4 linked regions of the Homo sapiens genome follow. The protein of the gene in region 4 purifies or fractionates together with the protein of the main gene of each other region. This does not show direct contact. Each region holds a gene or a part of one and is shown on either strand. Other genes may lie near its edges.

Region 1 (3,500 bases), on a different chromosome or scaffold from region 4:
TGAGGTCTGGAGTTCAAGACCACCCTGGCCAACAGGTGAAACCTGTCTCTACTGAAAATACAAAAATTAGCCAGGTGTGGTGGTGCACACCTGTAATCCCAGCTACTTGGGAGGCTGAGGCAGGAGAATTGCTTGAACTCGGGAGGCGGAGGCTGCAGTGAGCCAAGATCATGTCACTGCACTCCAGCCTGGGCAACAGAGCAAGACTCCATCTCAGAAAAAAAAAAGGAGGACAGAATAGGAAGACATGAAAAATTATCTCAAATGTAATTAGAATGTCCCAGTTTCCTTTAACCTCAAGTACACAACTATGGAGTGGTAAGATATACAGGGACAGCAGTGAAAGTCAAAGCCTCCTGATGAAGGAGTAGGAATCTCCTATGGCTGCTGTAACCAAATTACACAAACTTTGTGACTTAAAACAACACAAATTTATTGAGTTTCACTGGGCTAAAATCAAGGCGTGAGCAAGGTTGCTTCCTTCTGGAGACTCTAGGAAAGAATTCATTTCCTTGACGTTTCTAGCTTCTGGAGGCCGCCCACACTCCTTGGCTCATGGTCCCTCCTCCTTCCTCAAAGGGCATCACTCCAACTCTGCCTCTGTCATCACATCTCCTCTGACTCTGACCCTCCTGCCTCTCCTATAAGGACCCTGTGACCACATAGAGCCCACCTGGATAATTCAGGGTAATTCTCCTTTAACATACTCACATCTGCAAAATCCCTTTACCCATGTAAAGTAACACACCACAGGCTCCAGGGATTACCACATGGATTACCAACTTCAGGGGCCATTATGCTGCCTACCGCAGAGGGGAAGCTGATTTAACCCAGTTTAGAAAAGTCAAATACAAATGAAACCTCTATACCTCTATCCCATTCCTTTTTGCTCTTCTATGTTAGAAAATCACTTCAACTTATGTTGGCTATTGGATTTGTTTCTAATACATCATTCCACTAGAAGACTTTACAACCACGTGAGAAAAAGAAATGCAGCCCCTGACATCTGGGAGCTGGCCTGGTAATATCACAGCTGGGCCTTGGTGTTGCTGTAAACTGGCTAACAACTCAGAGCAAGGCACACACCTAGGCCTTGATGACTGACTCTTCTGCTGAACATCAACAATTTCAGAGAACATCAATATCAGACAAGACCATGATGGATAAAGACTAAACAAGACCACTCTGTAATCACTCCTGAACACAAGCAAAAAAAAAAACATGAACATTGTCCAAATCACAGAAATGACCAACTCTCTATCCTGGCTAACAGGAATGACTGTTGCTTCTTTACCAGTTACAGCTTTAGCTTTATTCCAGTCTTCTTTCCTTCTAGAAAAGATTTCTTAAGCTATCCAGTTACAGAATTTTTCCAGCTTCCTAACAGCACCCCATACAGATCAAAGCCTCACTTCCTTAAACCCTTCCCAAACTACCTAGTAGAAGCCCAAATCCCATTTGAAAAGTTACTGAAACACCCCACAGTTCCCCATGGAACTCACTGAAATATGCAATAAGCCCAATTTGTCCAACTACAGGTGTGCTCTTGGAGGTCTTTCACTGGAGGGCAATGACAAAGGTCAGAAGACTACAGACTCCAAGATAACTGCATTCTGAACTTACATACAAGATTGGTGATTGGTTCCCACCTTCTGCCCAACCACTATTCCCAAGTGGGAAGGACTAAAGTTTTTTATCTCCTGCATAAAGGGTAAGCCATAGAGTTGAGGGCAAGACACCAGTAGAAAACAGCAGGTAAACTCATCTAGAGAGGCAGTAGATGAAGGATACTTCTATCCCCATTATCTCCCCACCTCCCATTTGGCCTAAAAGGAGCCAACTAAATGGGAAGGTTCTAAAATCTCTGTTGTGTAAGTCCCAGTCTGGCTGGGCACGGTGGCTCATGCCTGTAATCCCAGCACTTTGCGAGGCCGAGGCAGGGGCGGATCACCTGAGGTCAGGAGTTCAAGACCAGCTTGGCCAACATGGCAAAACCCCATCTCTACTAAAAATACAAAAATTAGCCAGGCATGGTGGCAGGCGCCTGTAATCCCAGCTACTTGGGAGGCTGAGGCAGGATAATCACTGGAATCTGGAAGGCGGAGGTTGCAGTGAGCCAGGATCGCTCCACTGCATTCCAGCCTCGGTGACAGAGCGAGACTCCGTGTAAAAGAAAAAAAAAAAAAAGTCCCAGTCAACCCCAGACTTGGTTCCAAAAATATTCTAGCCAAGAGGGGAGCTTAAGCCATACCCAGGATAAGGAAGAATTTAGATTGCGCAGCCAGGCCAGGCATGGTGGCTCACACCTCTAATTCTAGCACTTTGGGAAGCTGAGGCAGGAGGATTACTTGAGGCCAGGAGAGTTCAAGACCAGTCTGGGTAACACGGAAATAACCCGTCCATACAAAAATGGCCAGACGCATTGACTCACACCTGTAATCCCAGCACTTTGGGAGGCCAAGGCAGGAGGATCACTTGAGGTCAGGAGTTTGAGACTAGCCTGGCCAACATGGTAAAACCCTGCCTCTACTAAAAATTCAAAAACATTAGCCGGGCATGGTGGCAGGCACCTATAATCCCAGCTACTGGGAGGCTGAGGCAGGAGAATCACTTGAACCCGGGAAGCAGAGGTTATCGTGAGCCGAGATTGTGCCACTGCACTCCAGGCTGGGTGACAGAGACTCCATATCATAAATAAATAAATAAAATTAGCCAGGCATGGTGGTGGCACCTGTAATCCCAGCTACTCAAGAGGCTGAGGCACAAGAATTGCTTGAACCCAGGAGGTAGAGGTTGCAGTGAGCTGAGATAGTGCCACTGCACTCCAGCCTGGGTGACAGAGTGAGACTCTGCCTCAAAAAAAGAAAAAAAAAAAAAAAAAGACTTCCTTCAAGTAGGAAGATCTCTTGAGCCTGGGAGATAGAGGCTACAGTAAGCCGTGTTTGTGCCACAGCATTCCAGCCTGAGTGACGGAACCACACTCTGCCTCAAAAATAATTTTGTAAAGAGTCACAGCCTACAAGGTGGCAATCCTGATAGCTGGGAAGCATCCTCCCGCAGAGCACAGAAACAGACCTTCAAGGGAGGATAGAACAGGGATTTATGCTGAACGGGTTGGCCAAGTTTATATATTTAACAGGTTATAGGAGGAGCTATGAATATTCACAAAGTGGGGGAGGTCATGCACATGCAGGCTGAATAAACATGTATGTTACATACTTATCCATATTCACTTGTGGGTGGAGACTTAACATCTAAAAGGATTACAATGAGGCCCTGTAGTCAGATGGCGAAGCAGGGACATGAAGGCACTGAAGTGCACAGCCTCTGTAAACTGGCCAGAACCAGTTCATGCTCAGTGCTCTTATCAGGAGAAAGTTACTGAAATCAGTCTCTTGTCCAATCAAAGCTATAGTTATGGCTTGTGGAACAGGAGAGTGGGGATCACTTAGGGTCTGGCAGTGAGTGAGCTGCAGTTATCTTAATATTGCTTATCTGGA
Region 2 (3,500 bases), on a different chromosome or scaffold from region 4:
GTATATAAGTATAAAATATCTTGAAAGGAGTAAGTCACTTTAAATATAGACTCTGCCTGATGGGAGTCACTGTGATTGAAACCCTGAAAAACGTAAAAACAGCTGATGGTCCATCACTCATCCCTACTGGCATTGCTTACCTAAACTGATCAATTGAACTAGCAGCTTTGCGAACTTTTCCGTACATTCCTGCCAGATTAGTTTCTGTGTCATTAAAAAGAACAGGAACATTTCGCAGACGAGTGCCTGTTTAAATAAGAAAATAAATTAGTGTACTGACATAAAAATTAACTAAGACAATTATAATTGGAAATACACTGTATTACATGTGGAAGGAATTTTCAAGGGCAACTTTCTAAGCATCACCCCAAAGTAGATGAAACTATAAAGAAAGGACAGGTAAATTTGATGACATAAATATTTAAACATCCATATCCACAACAAGAAAAAAGTTTTAAATAAGAAAATGATTTTAGCAAAAATTAAGAAATTTACAAATACTAAGCGTTGACAAGAGTCAATATTAATGGGCCCTTTGTTCCTATGTGAGGAGGAGTGAGGCCGGGTGGTCTTTCTATGAAGCAGAGGACTCCCAAATGTGTACTCCAGCCCAGAGGCTTCATCCCCTGCCAGACTCATCCAACTGCCTATTCGCTTCCATCCAGATATCTAACGGGCACCCCAAAGCCTGCCTAACACTACAATTCAGAGTTCTTGTCCTCGCTGTCAACCTGCCTCAGCTGCCATTTCCCTGTCTCAGGACATCACAATTCCAATCCTTCCATCTGCTCAGGCCAAAACTCTTGACTTCTTTCTCTCAAACTCCGTATCTCATCTGCCAACATATTCTGTCAGCTTACCTTTAAAATAAATTCTCAGTCCACCTTCACAATCCCACTCAGTTCTAGACTACCATCTCTCACATGGATTAATGCAATGGCTACCCACCCACCTCCGGCCTCCTCTTGCCCTGTCTCCCTGCTTCCACTTTTAGCCCTGTGCAGTCTATTCTTGACATGGCAGTCAGAGGCAGCCTATTAAGGTGCAAGTCAGATCAGTCCCCCCTCTCAAGATCCTTCAATGGCTTCCTACCTCATTCAGAGTAAAAGTCCCCATACAGGCCTCAACGGCCTATTCTAAGCTCTCTGGATTCATCTTACACAAGTGTCTTCTTCACTCAGTCTACTCCAGAGGCCTTGGCCTCCTTGCTGTTCCTGAAATATGCCAGGAACATGCCTGCCTCAAGGCCTTTGTGCCTGCTCTTCTTTCTGCCTGGAACACTTTTTTTCTATGCCTCCTCATTGTTCACTATCTTACCTCCTTTGGGACTTTAAAGAAGTGACACTTTTCACCGTATGTTCTCACTCATAGGTGGGAATTGAACAATGAGAACACATGGACACAGGAAGGGGAACATCACACTCTGGGGACTGTTGTGGGGCTGGGGGAGGGGGGAGGAGGGATAGTATTAGGAGATAGACCTAATGCTAAATGACGAGTTAATGGGTGCAGCACACCAGCATGGCACATGTATACATATGTAACTAACCTGCACATTGTGCACATGTACCCTAAAACTTAAAGTATAATAATAATAAAAAAATAAAATAAAAAAAAAAAGGTGAAACCTAAAAGAAACTGAAAACCCTTAAAAAAATCACAGAAGTTATGGTCAGGAAAATTTTATTAATTTAAGCGAGGCACTTTTTATTTATGCCATTAAGGAGTATGATTTACTTATTTATAATTTCATTTTTACTTGTAATTAACAATTACAAATAAAATGATAATTATACATTAAAAAAAAAAAAGAAGTGACACTTTTCAACGAGGTCTTCCTGATCACCCTTTTTAAATTACAGTGCCATCCCCATACCTGGCACCCAGCGTCTCTTAAACAATTTTTTTTATTAAAAGAAATAATTTAAAGCCAAAGAACTGAGAAATTTGCTGAATGACAATTTGTAGACTTTACGAAGTTCCAAGATTAAAAATCTGATCTGTTGATGCTTATACTATCTTACACATTATTTTTTAATTACATATGTTGGGAATCTATAGATTTCTTTAGATATGGTTATGTGAACTATGTATTAGCTCTAATACCCGTAACTATTTACTGGAAGATTATTAAAGCAAATCTTGTTTCAAGTGTCCTGAAAGCTCCTCTCTACTGAATTCCTCGCCTTGTCAGCATCATCTTGTTAAGTGTCTCAGACATTACAATATAATTATCAATCCTCAGACTACTTTCCCCAAGTCTAATACTGGTGAGGAATATTAATTAGTCCATTATCCGGTTCACTAACAATACTAAACAGTACGTGGCCCAGGTCTCATATCAGAAAATTGAGTCCTTCACTGGATGAAGTTTCTTTCAAATAAAAATAGTCCTTCTATAACTTTTCAAAAGCATGTTTGAATGAAATGTTCTTTTGAGATTCCTTTTTTGATTACCTTCACCATTGTCAATTCCAGACATATTAATCGAAGACCCATTACTACTACTTCCAGAGGCGGAGTTCATCTGCTGTTCGAGGCGCTCCAGTTGAAAGACCAGGGAGTTCTTTTCTGTGCTGAGACTCTCCAGCATGGTCTGTTTCTGGATGAGAGTCTCTGTTAGCTGATGGAGTCGATTTTCTAACTCAGACTGACTGCTATTGCTTAAAGTTTTATTGGTAAGCTGAAAGAGAAAGTGTTCACAAAATTCTTACATAAAATGAAAGTCATACAATACAGAAATCACACTACTACATTTTCATAGGTAAATTGTGGCATTCATTGATTTCTCAAAACTCTATACTGACTCAATGTCTACAAAAGTGATTTTCAAAAACTGGGGTCATGAAATCAATTTGGTGGGTCAAAATCAGCATTTTAGAAAATGTAATAGAATGGGACATATTCTGATATTTATGTAACATATAGTATATATAAAAGTATAATTTTGTGAAACTCCTGTTTCAGTTTGGTACATGTAAGTGCATGTCAGTACTGAGACACGATGTAAACTGTTTTTCTCACTGAGGCGTCATGGTCAAAGTATTTCAAAGCATGGGTTTAGAGGACACAATCCACACTTTTCAACAGGGATTCAAAAGCCTCCGTCATTCAACAGTTACGGTGCAGTGCAAAGATCACACTCTGAGGTTTTCATCTCTGCTCTGCAATTTTCAAGCTATTTGACTTCAGGTTAATTGCTATACTTCTCTGAATCTGTTTCCTCATCTGTTAGTGAAGATGACAGCACCCGTTGCACATGGTATTTAGGGACAGTAAATGATAGTTGTCCTAGGAGACTCTGGCTGAAAGTTGATACTTAACGACTTCCTTCATTCCATCTTCCATCTGGTCTTATCTGTCTCCATCTCCCTCTACTCTCCTCCAGCCTCCGCTATGCCGGCCACGTTTCCTCTGTTTGGAAACTCAATCCCCTTCTCTTATCTAGGCTCCACCTGCCTTTCTTTCTTATAAATCCCTTACAGCACTCCCCACAAATT
Region 3 (3,500 bases), on a different chromosome or scaffold from region 4:
TGGAGCAGTATAACTACCTTCTGGCACATGGCTTCTTTGAGCATTTTTTCCTTCTATTTCTGCTGTTAATTTTTCAGCAGATCTCTTTCAACACCACCACCAAAGTATTCCACATAACTCAAGACAGTAATTTACTCACAAAGAAAACACACCTCCAACTTCATTAATAACCAACTTTTTTTTATTAGAGCAGATACAGTTGTGAAAACTGTACATTATACATTTTGGTTTCAAGAATTATAAATAAAGGAACTCACAGGTAGGGAGTTCTTTTTCACAGCAAGAAACTTTAAATAAACAAAGTCATGTTTTATTAAGTACATTGGCAGACTTCATGTGCTGTCCAAAATGTTGAGTACAGTATAACAACCCATTAGAAAGAGCCTTCATGTAAAATACAGCTGTGCACATTTTAGAAAAATACCAACAATTTGAGCTTTGTTTTAAAAAAGCTTATAAATCATACATATATTTATAAATGGGACCAACATGCTCACTTTATAAACATATCCTCTCGCTATCTGTTACCCATTATTTCCAAAGCATTACGCATTTTAAATGAACACTTAATAAGATTAAATATTTTATTATTATTTTTTTAAAAAACCAGCTTTCCCAGCGTAAGGAGCTATAGGGTTTGGGAGGGGCAGTGAGAGTACTGAGAGTGACGCAGGAACTTTAAACATTTGTTCTCAGGTAAAAACGGACTTCCTAAATTTAAAAGTCAAAGCAAAATGTAAAAAATGAATATACAAGTTGAAATTTTTCATTTGCTCTCTTTCTGCCTTCTTCTTTATTCCATATTGGTCACACCCAGGATTTTCAACATATTGTGCTTCTGTAAGAAACATCACTGGGTTACTACCCTGCAGGTGACAAAGCACTCAGTCCACATCTGTGCTAACCAGGGAATTGTGTGAACTGTCTCTTCTCCATTGAAAAGGTAGCTAATATGGTGTAAAAAAAAAAAAAAATCTGATTAAACCATGCAAATCATGAAAATATTTAGGAGTAGCTCCCCCTCTGCAATGTAATGTTTTATAAAGATTTAATAGATTAGATAGATATCTTTCTTCCCCTGATTTCTTTTTAAGTAATTACTTTTATAAAGACCATTTAGTTTCTATAAGTAAGCATGCTTCTGAATAACAAAGGGTAAATTATAAAACAGCAAAAATCCAGAAATGTCAGAATGACAAAAGACTGTAAAAGACACATATTTAAAATAAAAATGTCTAAGCCTTTAAAATGTGAAATGAAATTACAAAAGGACTTTGAAAAACAGGAAAGGCAGAAAACTGAGAGGCAGTGATTGAACAAGGCTTTATGTTCTACCTGAATGTATTCAACAGAAATTTAAGTTGGAAAAAGAAAACAAGAAAGAGCAGAGCAGTTTATTAATAGCATCTTGCTTAACTTTCATGGGAATTAACACAGCCACCGACAAGATTTTATTTGGTTGTAAAGTACGTCAGCAAAGAAACTGAATCCTTTAAACACTGATTACTGCAATCCATGCAACGTTTGGACTATATTTCTTAGAATTCTGTTGTGTTTCAGCTTTTAAAATTTAGCACTTCCTAAGTGCATAAATAATTCACCTCAGTAATGTTAAAAATATTTAGAATTAAATTAGTTCTTAGGAAGGCATAGTGTCTTCAAATTGCTAAATTTTAAAGATAAATAACCTTTTACAAGTATAGGAAGAATAAATGACATAAAAGATGGTATATTGCTATCAAAATAAGCACATTTTCACTAGCATTTTGTTGTTTCTTTTCCTTGAGATGCAACACGTGTGTTTCGTCCGGCCAGGACCGCAGGTGGTAGATGACTATACGTCAGATTTAAATAAACAGCAAAAATGAACAGAGTCGTGCACAAGCAAACGAAACGTTCTCTCCCAGAACATTCCAGGAGATGTTAAAGCAGCAGGTCATGGCATAAGACTGGTGAGTGATGCTGCTACCTATTTCTTCTAATGAGATAGGAGTGAATGTTGGAACCACGTCCACAGCAACACAATCCTCCGACCGCATTCCTCGGGCAGTCGTTTCCCCAGCTCCCTACTAAAAACGTCAGATGGTAAAATAGTAAGGCAGCTGTTGACTTCCATCAAAAAAAAAAAAAAAATGCAGCTCCATACATTTCCAGTTTAGTCACACTCTGCTAGGACAGATGGAGTAGCCAATGCCAAGAACTTCGCCGGATGGGGCTGCTTCAGCAGATTTTAAAAAAGAATTATTATTAAGTTTTGCTCTCCAACATGGCCGTGTGCTTCAGCTCCCAGAGGACCCCAAAGCCACAAAGCACTCCCAGGGGAACCGAACAGGTCCTCTGGCTGAATTTTCCAAGTTTCATCTCTCTCGCGATCCCATCCTAATTCCAAGCCTCCTTCCCTGTGTCTGAGTCTGCCTGGGGTGGGCCATTTAAAGGGCTGACGGCACCACTGCAGAGAACTGTGGGCTAACACACCACTAGTTGTCAGGACTTCACTGAAGGGTCAAAACAGTTATAGCAATTAAGTAACTATGTTGAATCACATTCAGGCATAGCCAAAATTAAAGTGAAGGACAATACGTCATTGTTAAAAAAAATAGCAAATTTGCATATGAGAAAAGAATGTTATTTACTATGATTTTAGATAGAAATTAAGGCGATTCTTACCTTTCCTAATTCCAATCAAGTTAGAAAGTGAACAAAAAGAATGGCCAACCCGATATTCAACAGCATGACAAGGACAATCATGATTGAATTAGGGCCCTGAAAATGAAAGAGAACAAAGTAACTATAACTTCTCCATGTTAATATCAAGATATTACCAAAGCCAATTACTGAAAAAATGAGAAAGTTAACATGATTGCAGTAAATAAGGCATAAAAGATGACAGCAGTTCGGAAAGGTGTAGACTAAAAACGGCAATGCTATGTTTAGATGGAGACATTTCAGAACCTTCACTTAAAAATGAATCCAGGCTTGAATTAGTTTAAAAACGTTTTAAACAACTGATCCACTTCATTCACCTCAAAACAATGGACAACAGCGTGTGCTGAGACACAGCTCACCCTAACAGGGCCTACGAACGGCTGGGAGTTAGACGTGCATTTGTTGTTAGAATGCAGTTCAGATGAGGAAGAGCTGCTTCCTCCACAGGGCAGTTAGAACACGAGAGCAAAATCTGTAGGACAAAGCCACCTCCAAGGAACAATTCAGGGAAAACTCAAAACGAGGTTCTCTACCTCTTGCTTTTTCCCTGGTCCTCTGTTTGGACACCACCCTTTCCGTTAAGTAAAAGCTGTAAGTGAGAAGTTGGATACTTTCAGAAGTTATCTTACAGGCCCAGCTTTTCAAATTTCTCTAATCACAACCACAACATTTCAGAAATGAAGTTATATTTTACAAACTATGGGATCCTATTTTGATAAATATCATTATAATAAATACCAGATAGTTGTCCAAGGGCCCCAAATTTTTACTTGTTTAAACAAACCAACCTCATA
Region 4 (3,500 bases):
CCTTGGAATCTTTACCAAACCCAGGTCTGAATTCCCTGTGACTGTGTGTGTGTCTCTTAATCTCTCTGAGACTCAATTTCTCCTAAGACAAAAAAGAGAGTAGATATACTCTACTTTATACAACTGCCAAGAGGAATCTACGAGGTAATGAGGGTAAAAGTACGAGCAAAAAGGTTGTCAGAAGATAAACTCAAGGAATGTTTACAAAAATTACTTAAGACATGAAAAGAAAACTCAATTCTTTTTTTCCCTTTCAAATTTTAATTCAAGCTGGCCGGGCACAGTGGCTCACACCTGTAATCCCAGCACTTTGGGAGGCTGAGGCAGGTGGATTGCCTAAGGTCAGGAGATCAAGACTAGCCTGACCAACATGGTGAAACCCTGTCTCTATTAAAAATACAAAAATTAGCCAGGCATGATGGTGGGCACCTGTAATCCCAGCTACTCTGGAGGCTGAGGCAGGAGAATACTTGAACCCAGGAGGTGGGCATTGCAGTGAGCCAAGATGGCGCCACTGCACTCCAGATTCGGTGATGCAGTGAGACTCCATCTCATTAAAAAAAAAAAAATTTAGTTAAAGACAGAGAGGTTTCATTCAACTACTGTATTAGTCTGTTTTTATGCTGCTGATAAAAACATACCCAAGATTGGGAAGAAAAAGGTTTATGGACTTACAGTTCCACATGGCTGGGAGGCAAGGAGGAGCAAGTCACATCTTACATGGATGGCAGCAGGCAAAAATTCCCATTTTTAAAACCATCAGATCTCATGAGACTCATGCACTATGAGAACAGCACAAGAAAGACCCACCCGCTCCCATAATTCAATCACCTCCCACTGGGTTCCTCCCATGACACATGGGAATTGTGGGAGTTACAATTCAAGATGAGATTTGGCTGGGAACACAGCCAGAGCATATCAACTACTTGTTGATGCGGAAGAGATGAAATGGAAGACAGAAAAGATGCATTGCAAGAGAATGCAAAGTGGAAGTGTCTTTGACTCCATAAGGGGCTCAGGGCCTGAAGATTTAAAGCCCCACTATAGGAAGATGCCCCCTCCCAGAACTGAGCTGCTGCAGCTACCACACAGATGCTCAGGCTGAGGGTTGTGGGCACCCAGGTAAGCAGCTGACTGAGAAATATGAAATTTTAATTTACCTCCACCTGTAACTGTGGGGCTGATATTCCATGCTTCCTTTGGCTCAAAACCCCTTCCCTGAAATTGCATATATTTTCTTTTTAAGCAGAAGAGCTGAAATGATATCAGTGAAAAGAATGAGGTTAGCTGGGGAGGGTCTGAAAATATCCAAGCAGTAGACACTGGATAATAATCAAACCCACTCCCTACCTCACTATCCTACATCACTGATTCTCAATCCCCATTCTCCAGATCCCGCACCTCTGGAAATGCCTGGAGACATTTTTGGTTGTCACACCTGGGGGATGCTATTGGCACCTAAGGCTGGGGATGTTGCTAAACATTTTACAATACACAAGATAGCCCCCAACAACAGAGAATTATCCGGTCAAAAACGTCAGTAGTGCCGAGGTTGAGAAAACCTGCTCTACACAAACAATTTGGGTTCATTCTTCTCATTCTGTTTTTTACTGTATGTACTTAATAAACAGATCAAGAAAAATAAAACAAGCCCTTCCATAACATACACATGCTCTGAGAAGACAAGAGATGGAAGCTGTGCTGAGAACAAGACTGAGATGATTACTTCTATCACAAGATAAAAAATAATGACTACGTGAATTAGTTTTTACCCTTAATTATTTTTTATTTATTATCCTCATCAAGCCAGGCAAACTAAGCCCATATTCCTAAAACTATATTATTTTTAAATAGCTGAAAGGAGTACATTTTTTTCTGATGGCCATATGTGAGATGGATGCCTCAGGCACAGGGCTGTCCCCTCCCTCCCTCACCATGATAGCCATACTGCCACTGGTTTCTGGACACTCCTATATTCTTGTTTTCCCATTCCTCACTGAGCTACACAAAATACATTTATTGAAGAGCTGCTCTGTGCCCAGCTCAACTCTACAGCTGGGGCATAGCCCTGAACAAGACATGTTCAAATCTCTCCTATCCTGAAGCTTACATTTTGGAGGTGGGGATACAGACAGTAAACAAATAAATTTAAAAAATAGGAAACAATTCTGGGTAGTAGGTACTGTAAAGAAAGATCAAACAGGGTAAGCAGAGAGGGAATGGGTGTCTGGGTCAGGGGTGGGTCATCAGGGAAGGCTCTCCAAGGACATGACATTTGAGCAGAGACCAGAAAATGATGCGAGGGAACCTCAGGCAGGCCAGAGAAGAGCCCTTGCAAAGCCCTGAGGCTGAAATGAGCTCGGCGTGTTTAAGGATTAGCAAGAAAGCTGGAGAGGAGTGAAGAAGAGAACAGCAGACTTTGGAGACAGTCGGGGGCCAGATTACAAAAAGCATTGCAGGCCTGGAGAAAGAGTGTGGACTGGATTCTACATGTGAGAGGAAGCCACTGGAGAGACATGACTGACTTACACTTTCAAGAGGTCACTGTGCCTGCTGCTGGGTGAAGGGGGGACTGCAAGGGGCAAGTGTGGAGGCAGGGACCCCAGTTAGGAGGCCACGGCTATGGCCCAAGTAGAGACAAAGGCTTGGACCAGGGTCATGGTAACAGAAGTGTTAAGAAATGTTTAGATTCACTAATCTCCTTAAAGACGCCAACATTTTGGAGCTAAAAGAGGCCTTCAGAGTAATTCATTCTAGTCTATCATTTTACAGATGACAAAATGAAAGCCCAAGGGGCTGAAATGAGTTACCCATAGTCATAGACCTAATTACTGACAAAGCACAAATTTCCTGACTGCCATCACTATACCTCTGCCCTTACCTGGCCAACCCAGGGCTGGGGTGGGCAATGCAGAAGACAGGTAGGCACAGGAACCCTCTAGAGGGTAGTCCTAGCCAAAGTCAAAATAAATGACTCTCTTTGCTTTGGGCAAGGTCACCCTAACATCCTAGCCAAACCCAATGGGCCCTTATTGAGCTCTCTGCAGCATCTGACACTTCTGACTCCTTTCATTTTTTTGAGACTCCCTCTTCCCTTGTCTTCCCTGAGCTCCTCTCTCCTGTCTCTCCGTCCTTTAGTTCCTTACCAGTCTTGCTTACCTGCTAATCATCCTACCCTGTAAGCGCTGCAGTTTTCCAAGATGCCCTCTGGGGCACTATTTCTTCCTTTCTCATCTACAGAGGAAATTAACTGTCGGCCTCCTCGATATCTCTTACCCTTGTCCAGCAGTTGCTCCTCTGGAGACCCACCCTTTTCACACACCACATCCATGTGGCTTCATGGATGTGGACACATGACCTATGCCTCGCCAATCAGCATCTTCGAACTTCCTTTGATGTAACAACAGTGTTGCTGAAACAGCTGGGAGAAGGACAGTTCCCCTTTCACATTGGATTTGAACCTGCAGCTTTCCCCCTTGCCAGAGCTGCTGGGGATCACC

Evidence for each region. Proteins that work in one complex are often made in the same cells at the same time.
Region 1: the proteins of GPR161 (region 4) and LMBR1 purify together in Homo sapiens (affinity purification with mass spectrometry; 2 studies listed by BioGRID and IntAct, with this or other methods). This does not show direct contact.
Region 2: the proteins of GPR161 (region 4) and GOLGA5 purify together in Homo sapiens (affinity purification with mass spectrometry; 2 studies listed by BioGRID and IntAct, with this or other methods). This does not show direct contact.
Region 3: the proteins of GPR161 (region 4) and JPH1 purify together in Homo sapiens (affinity purification with mass spectrometry; one large-scale study listed by BioGRID and IntAct). This does not show direct contact.

What each region holds. Positions count from the first base shown.
Region 1 is NC_000007.14:156,883,184-156,886,683, forward strand, and holds part of LMBR1 (limb region 1 protein homolog), read right to left. Parts: intron 1-3,500. UniProt on the Homo sapiens protein: Putative membrane receptor.
Region 2 is NC_000014.9:92,832,305-92,835,804, reverse strand, and holds part of GOLGA5 (golgin subfamily A member 5), read right to left. Parts: intron 2,684-3,500; coding exon 2,458-2,683; intron 247-2,457; coding exon 141-246; intron 1-140. UniProt on the Homo sapiens protein: Involved in maintaining Golgi structure. Stimulates the formation of Golgi stacks and ribbons. Involved in intra-Golgi retrograde transport.
Region 3 is NC_000008.11:74,234,541-74,238,040, forward strand, and holds the end of JPH1 (junctophilin-1), read right to left. Parts: intron 2,764-3,500; coding exon 2,683-2,763; 3' UTR 2,668-2,682; exon of another isoform or gene 2,496-2,667; 3' UTR 160-2,495; downstream 1-159. UniProt on the Homo sapiens protein: Junctophilins contribute to the formation of junctional membrane complexes (JMCs) which link the plasma membrane with the endoplasmic or sarcoplasmic reticulum in excitable cells.
Region 4 is NC_000001.11:168,126,931-168,130,430, forward strand, and holds part of GPR161 (G-protein coupled receptor 161), read right to left. Parts: intron 1-3,500. UniProt on the Homo sapiens protein: Key negative regulator of Shh signaling, which promotes the processing of GLI3 into GLI3R during neural tube development.